Linked DNA regions of Homo sapiens. The protein of the gene in region 1 purifies or fractionates together with the protein of each later gene. This does not show direct contact. Each region holds a gene or a part of one and is shown on either strand. Other genes may lie near its edges.

Region 1 (3,141 bases):
ATTCAATTAGGAAAAGAGGAAGTCAAATTGTCCCTGTTTGCAGATGACATGATTGTATATCTAGAAAACCCCATTGTGTCAGCCCAAAGTCTCCTTAAGCTGATAAGCAACTTCAGCAACGTCTCAGGATACGAAATCAATGTACAAAAATCACAAGCAATCTTATACACCAATAACAGACAAACAGAGAGCCAAATCATGAGTGAACTCCCATTCACAATTACTTCAAAGAGAATAAAATACCTAGGAATCCACCTTACAAGGGACGTGAAGGACCTCTTCAAGGAGAACTACAAACCACTGCTCAATGAAATAAAAGAGGATACAAAGAAATGGAAGAGCAATGTATTTTTAAAAAGCAATGTTGTCCCACAGCCTTTCCTATGTTTGATGTTCCTAGACTTGTTGTTTAATTTTTTGCCGATCTACTGGCATTAAATGATATCATAAATATGATTTAGATAATAAATAATATCATAAATATTATTTAGGTATTAAATGGTGTCTTAGTGTTGTTCTTAGTATTTTTTCAGTGGCCATCTATCACTTATTACTTGGTTTAATTTCAAAAATTAATATATATTCTTATTGTATTGGAATACTGAATAGGTTTCATATAGGAAACATGAAACTCAGATTGCTTGAGGGATAACTACTGTGCACATTGTGGTGCATTCGGAATCTTCCAGTCTTTTCTTCTTGGCACATGTAGTTATCTACACTGTGGTCATACCACATATACACCTTTATATTCTGCCTTTTTCATTTTAACTGTTTTTTTTTCTTTTTTTGGACACAAGATCTTGCTCTGTCACCCAGGCTTTAGTACAGTGGCTCAGTGATGGTGTACTGCAGCCTCAAACACCCAGGCTCAAGAGATCTTCCCACTTCAACCTCTAGAGTAGCTGTGACTACAAGTGCACACCACCATGCTCAGCTAATTTTTTGTAGAGATGGGATCTTGCTGTGTTGCCCAGGCTGGCCTCGAGCTCCTGGCCTCAAACAGTTCTCCCATTTCAGCCTCCCAAAATGTTGGGATTACAGGTGTGAGCCAGTGCGCCTGGCCTCATTTAACATTTTATCATGAAAACTTCCTGTGTCATTAAATACTATGTAAAGACATGACTTTCAATGGCTGCTTACTTTTCTATTATATGGATGTGCCTAAACTTAGGCAATCATTGGTTGTTACATTTTTCTTTTTTGCTGTTATATCTAATGCTGAACATCTTTGTACTATATCCGTGTTACATTTATAAGGTGAAGGACGTTGGAAAATATGTGGTTAGTTCTTGAATGTGCTGCCCTTTTTAAAGCATACATGTTAAGTATCCATACAGGCAGGGTTGTGGGGAAGCACTGTCTACAGCCGGTGCAATATGCATCTGATGGGTTAGAGCCTTCAGCTGAGAGTCCCAGTAGCACTTACCTTGCTCTTTCTCTCTACACAGTCTTATTGTTACAGGTATCGCTGTGCTGCTCGGAGCCAGAACACACCTGATAGCTCTGCTTCGAATCTGGGATTCCGCTGTGCAGCCGACCGCCTGCCCACTATGGACTGACAACCAAGGAAAGTCTTCCCCAGTCCAAGGAGCAGTCGTGTCTGACCTACATTGGGCTTTTCTCAGAACTTTGAACGATCCCATGCAAAGAATTCCCACCCTGAGGTGGGTTACATACCTGCCCAATGGCCAAAGGAACCGCCTTGTGAGACCAAATTGCTGACCTGGGTCAGTGCATGTGCTTTATGGTGTGGTGCATCTTTGGAGATCATCACCATATTTTACTTTTGAGAGTCTTTAAAGAGGAAGGGGAGTGGAGGGAACCCTGAGCTAGGCTTCAGGAGGCCCGCGTCCTACGCAGGCTCTGCCACAGGGGTTAGACCCCAGGTCCGACGCTTGACCTTCCTGGGCCTCAAGTGCCCTCCCCTATCAAATGAAGGGATGGACAGCATGACCTCTGGGTGTCTCTCCAACTCACCAGTTCTAAAAAGGGTATCAGATTCTATTGTGACTTCATAGTGAGAATTTATTATAGATTATTTTTTAGCTATTTTTTCCATGTGTGAACCTTGAGTGATACTAATCATGTAAAGTAAGAGTTCTCTTATGTATTATTTTCGGAAGAGGGGTGTGGTGACTCCTTTATATTCGTACTGCACTTTGTTTTTCCAAGGAAATCAGTGTCTTTTACGTTGTTATGATGAATCCCACATGGGGCCGGTGATGGTATGCTGAAGTTCAGCCGTTGAACACATAGGAATGTCTGTGGGGTGACTCTACTGTGCTTTATCTTTTAACATTAAGTGCCTTTGGTTCAGAGGGGCAGTCATAAGCTCTGTTTCCCCCTCTCCCCAAAGCCTTCAGCGAACGTGAAATGTGCGCTAAACGGGGAAACCTGTTTAATTCTAGATATAGGGAAAAAGGAACGAGGACCTTGAATGAGCTATATTCAGGGTATCCGGTATTTTGTAATAGGGAATAGGAAACCTTGTTGGCTGTGGAATATCCGATGCTTTGAATCATGCACTGTGTTGAATAAACGTATCTGCTAAATCAGGCTTCACCGTCATCAGCTTCTTTTCTCTTTCTCTTCTTTATGTTTTCTTTTAAAGAGAGGACTTTGTGATATGCGTGTTTTATTTGCTAGAAAACGTTCATGTTTGTTAGCTAATGGATAACTTTGATATGTGGGTAATTTGTGGGAATTTTTGTTCCAAAAAGCAAGGCTATTCCACCAGTAACCCTATCATGACCTTGCTGCTTGTTGCCACAGTAGATAATGCCAAGTCAAAGGCACTGCCTCACTTGTGGTCTTGTAAAACCCAGCATTTGCTTCCCATGCCGGGAAAGCACCTTGTTTTAGAACAATAGCTTTCAACCTAAGGTCCCTGTTATCAAGTTCCCATCCTGATTCCTCAGTCCTGAGAACCCCTAAGCCATTTCTTGCATGCCATTTGAAAGAAATGTTTAAATCAAATAATATTCAAAAGTGTCTAACCAACACTTGAATGCTACTTTTGTGCTTAGCCTCTTAACATGTTAAAACAATTCCCTTGAAAAGCAGTCATGTAGGCCAGGCCCAGTGGCTCACACCTGTAACCCCAGCACTTTGGGAGGCCAAGGTGGGTAGATCACTCAA
Region 2 (3,461 bases), on another chromosome or scaffold:
GAGGTGGAGGTTGCAGTGAGCAGAGAACGCACCACTACACTCCAGTCTGGTGACAGAGCAAGGCTCCATCGCAAAACAACAACAACAACAACAAAAAAAAAACACAAAAGTATTTTAAAGCTGTTTATTCTACTGGAACACATTTGATGTAAGTATTAATTTGGTACAACCTTTTATGGGGGCCAGTTCAACATTATGTATCAAATAGTTTAAAGTTTTTAAACTTTTTAACCCAGTAATTACACTTCCAGGACTTTAATATGATGTTGCAGATGCACATTTAACAAATGAAAGAAATATATGTCAGCTAGAAAAAAGCATATTACTGAATAATTTGTATGACATAATTCCCAATGTTGGGAAAAAAGAAGTTTGTATCTGCACATACACACACACACACACACACACACACACACACACACACACACAAGATTGGAAGGATAGACACTGAAAAGTGACCTCTGGCCTCATCCGTGATTTTATTTATTTCTTTAAAATTTTTACAGTAACATACCTGGTGTTTGAGATACTTTTCTAAAAAATCAATTTTTTAATACCTACCACTCAAAAGGCCATGAATATTGAATGGGCTTTGCACAATGCCCAGGCAAAAGCAACAACAGCAAACGAAGAAACAATGTGCACTCCAACACTTGGTGAAATCTGCTTGATGATTTGAGAAGTGATAAAAATAGATTTTGTGATTACAATAGCTTTTGAAGCTAAAGCTTTGCACATGACAGAGCTTTCATGCTAGTGGCCCACAGCACTGGGTTGAGTCATTTACTAAATGGAAAAAAATGATTGAAAAATTAATGTTGGGCTTTATTTCTGAAGTCTCATTGACAAGAAGAAAATAACAAAGCTGTTTTTCATTTTGTTTATCCTGAAAGTCTTCAACAAGTGATTACTCAAAGTTCTTAGAGCAGTTGTTTCTCTTCTATGCTGTCTAGATCTCCAGATCACACTAAGTTTGTGGGAAGCTTCAAAACCAAACAAGACTTCATAGATTTGATTGAAGTAATCTATCGAGGAGCAATGAGGGGGAAGCTTATTGTCCAAAGTCCTATTGATCCCAAGAATATTCCCAAATATGACCTTCTCTATCAAGACATTTAGTACATTAATTGCTGTCAAAGATGAAGAAGAAGGCACATCTTGACACAGTACCTGAATCCAGCTGTGCTGTGTTTCTGGAGTCCTTTGGAAACATGTGTCCCAGAGGAGAAGAGGTTTGACTTGCGTGTAGAAAACCCGGCCCCTGAGGAAAAGACCCCACTGGTTCTCTGATGACCTGGGATGCCTAACTGTCTACTCCCTGCAAGCCTCAGAGCAGCCAAGTCATTGGTGTTCATTTTCCCCACAGTGATTTTTGTAACTTCTCTTTCTAATGTTTTTCTTTATCCCTTTAATACAGAACCCTCCCAAACATTGGCTAGTACAACTTGATTTCATCATGTTCATTTGATACACAAGTGAACTGGAAAGTCACTTCCCATAGAAGCAAAAGTACTTATTTTCTACCCTAGCTGGGTGCATGTGTGTGCACACACACACACACACACACCCCCACACCCCTTTGCCGGTTCCTCGACTCATACATCCCTCGTGCTTTCCCATCTCCAGTCTGTATTACTGTAGGTTCTCTTCAAATAATTAATTGAGCAGACAAGTTTGTTTTATTTTGGAGCCTTTTTGGCTCTGGCTTTTAAACATTGTCCTGGTTGGCTCATTTAATTTTTTTTTTTTTTTTTGAGACCGAGTCACTCTTGTCACCCAGGCTGGAGTGCAGTGGCGCGATCTCGGCTCACTGCAAGCTCCACCTCCTGGGTTCATGCCATTTTCCTGCTTCAGCCTCCTGAGTAGCTGGGACTACAGGCGCCCGCCACCATGCCCAGCTAATTTTTTGTATTTTTATAGAGGCGCAGTTTCACCGTGTTAGCCAAGATGGTCTCGATCTCCTGACCTCGTGATCTGCCCTCCTCAGCCTCCCAGGTGCTGGGATTATAGGCGTGAGCCACCGCGCGCACCCCATTTAATTATTTTTTATGTTATAAAATTTAATATGGAAAGTGAGAATTTGAACCTTCACCATCCACCACTCTATTCAGGTAAAACAATGAATGAGCCACCTTAGCAGGAGCAGATTTTTCCCAGAAGCTGCTGCCTCTTCCTGAGGCAGAAAATTGGATTACTAAGGCTCAAAACTAAAAGAGATGTCAGCATTGTTGGATAGAAATGTCACCTATATGGGATTTGCCTGTTTTAATAACTTTGTAAGGAATTCTTGCTCTTCTAGGGGTGCCTGGCGCAACCGTGGGCAAGTTACTGCTCCTCTTTAAACCTCGTGGTGGTTATTGAAACAGATTTATTAGAAGGAGAGGGTAGGTGCAGAGCTGGAGAGCCATGGGTGAGGCAGCTTGTGACCTGCCTAGCAGCCGCTGACCACCTCTCCAACAGAAGCCTAGTCCTGTTCAGAGCAGCACTGTCACTGCAAGTCCAGCCCCCTTTGCCAGGGGCTCCATTCCACCCCTTTCCTGCAGGGAGGGGTGCCATGAGTCTTGCTTTTGGCTCATACAGGAGAGAGGGAAGGCTGCCAGGCACTGCTTGTATCCCTGCTGATAAGAGGAGGGAGTCACTCCAGGAATAAGACAAAAGGAGAGGAGGAGGCCATCACCTCTGGCCTCTTCCATCGTACACTTCCTGTCTCTGGTTTAATCATGATGCATGGAGCTACAACAGCCATCTTAGGTCCCCGAGGTGCCCAGCATCACGTAAAACATCGATATGCTAAGAAGAACAAAAAGAGCCCAATCTCTGATGTTATTGAGCTCCTGCATGAACTCTGGACCTGCCTGCCTCAGACTTCTGTGAAAGAATAAAATTTCTTTTTGCCTAAGTCACTGTTAGTTGGGTTTTCTGTTCTTCAGCCCAGATCACACAGTATTTGCGGTATGGTAAGCACTCAGCGCACCAGCCAAAACTCAGAACCTGCGTGTGCAAAATTATCATGTCTTCTTCCTCCTGTTAGAAATAAGTTCTCTTATTTCTGAGTGCCGCAGAGGAAGAGGAGCACTCAGAAGAAAAGTTTCTCAGCAAGGCAAAGTTTACTTCTGCAGAAGGGTGCTGCCCGCGCCTATAGCAGTCGCAAAAGCACACCTAACAAAGGAGAACAGGTTTCTAACCCTAACGCAGTTCCTGCTTCTTTGTCTTTCCCCCATTGGCTGGGGTTGGACCGCACAGTCTAGGCTGACTCCAATTGGCTATGCGCTTGAATCTTTCTCAAATAAGGCAGAGGGTAAAGGTTACAGGTTAAGGTTTGGAGCAAGGCGGTTTACAGCCTATGACAAGAAAGTTGGATCTTTGAAGAGGAACCTTTCTTTTATTCTGACAATTTCCCCCTTTTTGTTGTTATAATTCTTCCTCTTCAAATTATTTTAGTAAGATTTGGCTTTGTTGCT

What was found.
Region 2: the proteins of SUMF1 (region 1) and TXNL4B fractionate together in Homo sapiens (co-fractionation; one large-scale study listed by BioGRID). This does not show direct contact.

The regions. Positions count from the first base shown.
Region 1 is NC_000003.12:4,360,565-4,363,705, reverse strand, and holds the end of SUMF1 (formylglycine-generating enzyme isoform 1 precursor), read left to right. Parts: intron 1-1,451; coding exon 1,452-1,562; 3' UTR 1,563-2,560; downstream 2,561-3,141.
Region 2 is NC_000016.10:72,084,295-72,087,755, reverse strand, and holds the end of TXNL4B (thioredoxin-like protein 4B), read left to right. Parts: intron 1-953; coding exon 954-1,119; 3' UTR 1,120-2,580; coding exon of another isoform or gene 2,581-2,650; 3' UTR 2,651-2,899; downstream 2,900-3,461. UniProt on the Homo sapiens protein: Essential role in pre-mRNA splicing. Required in cell cycle progression for S/G(2) transition.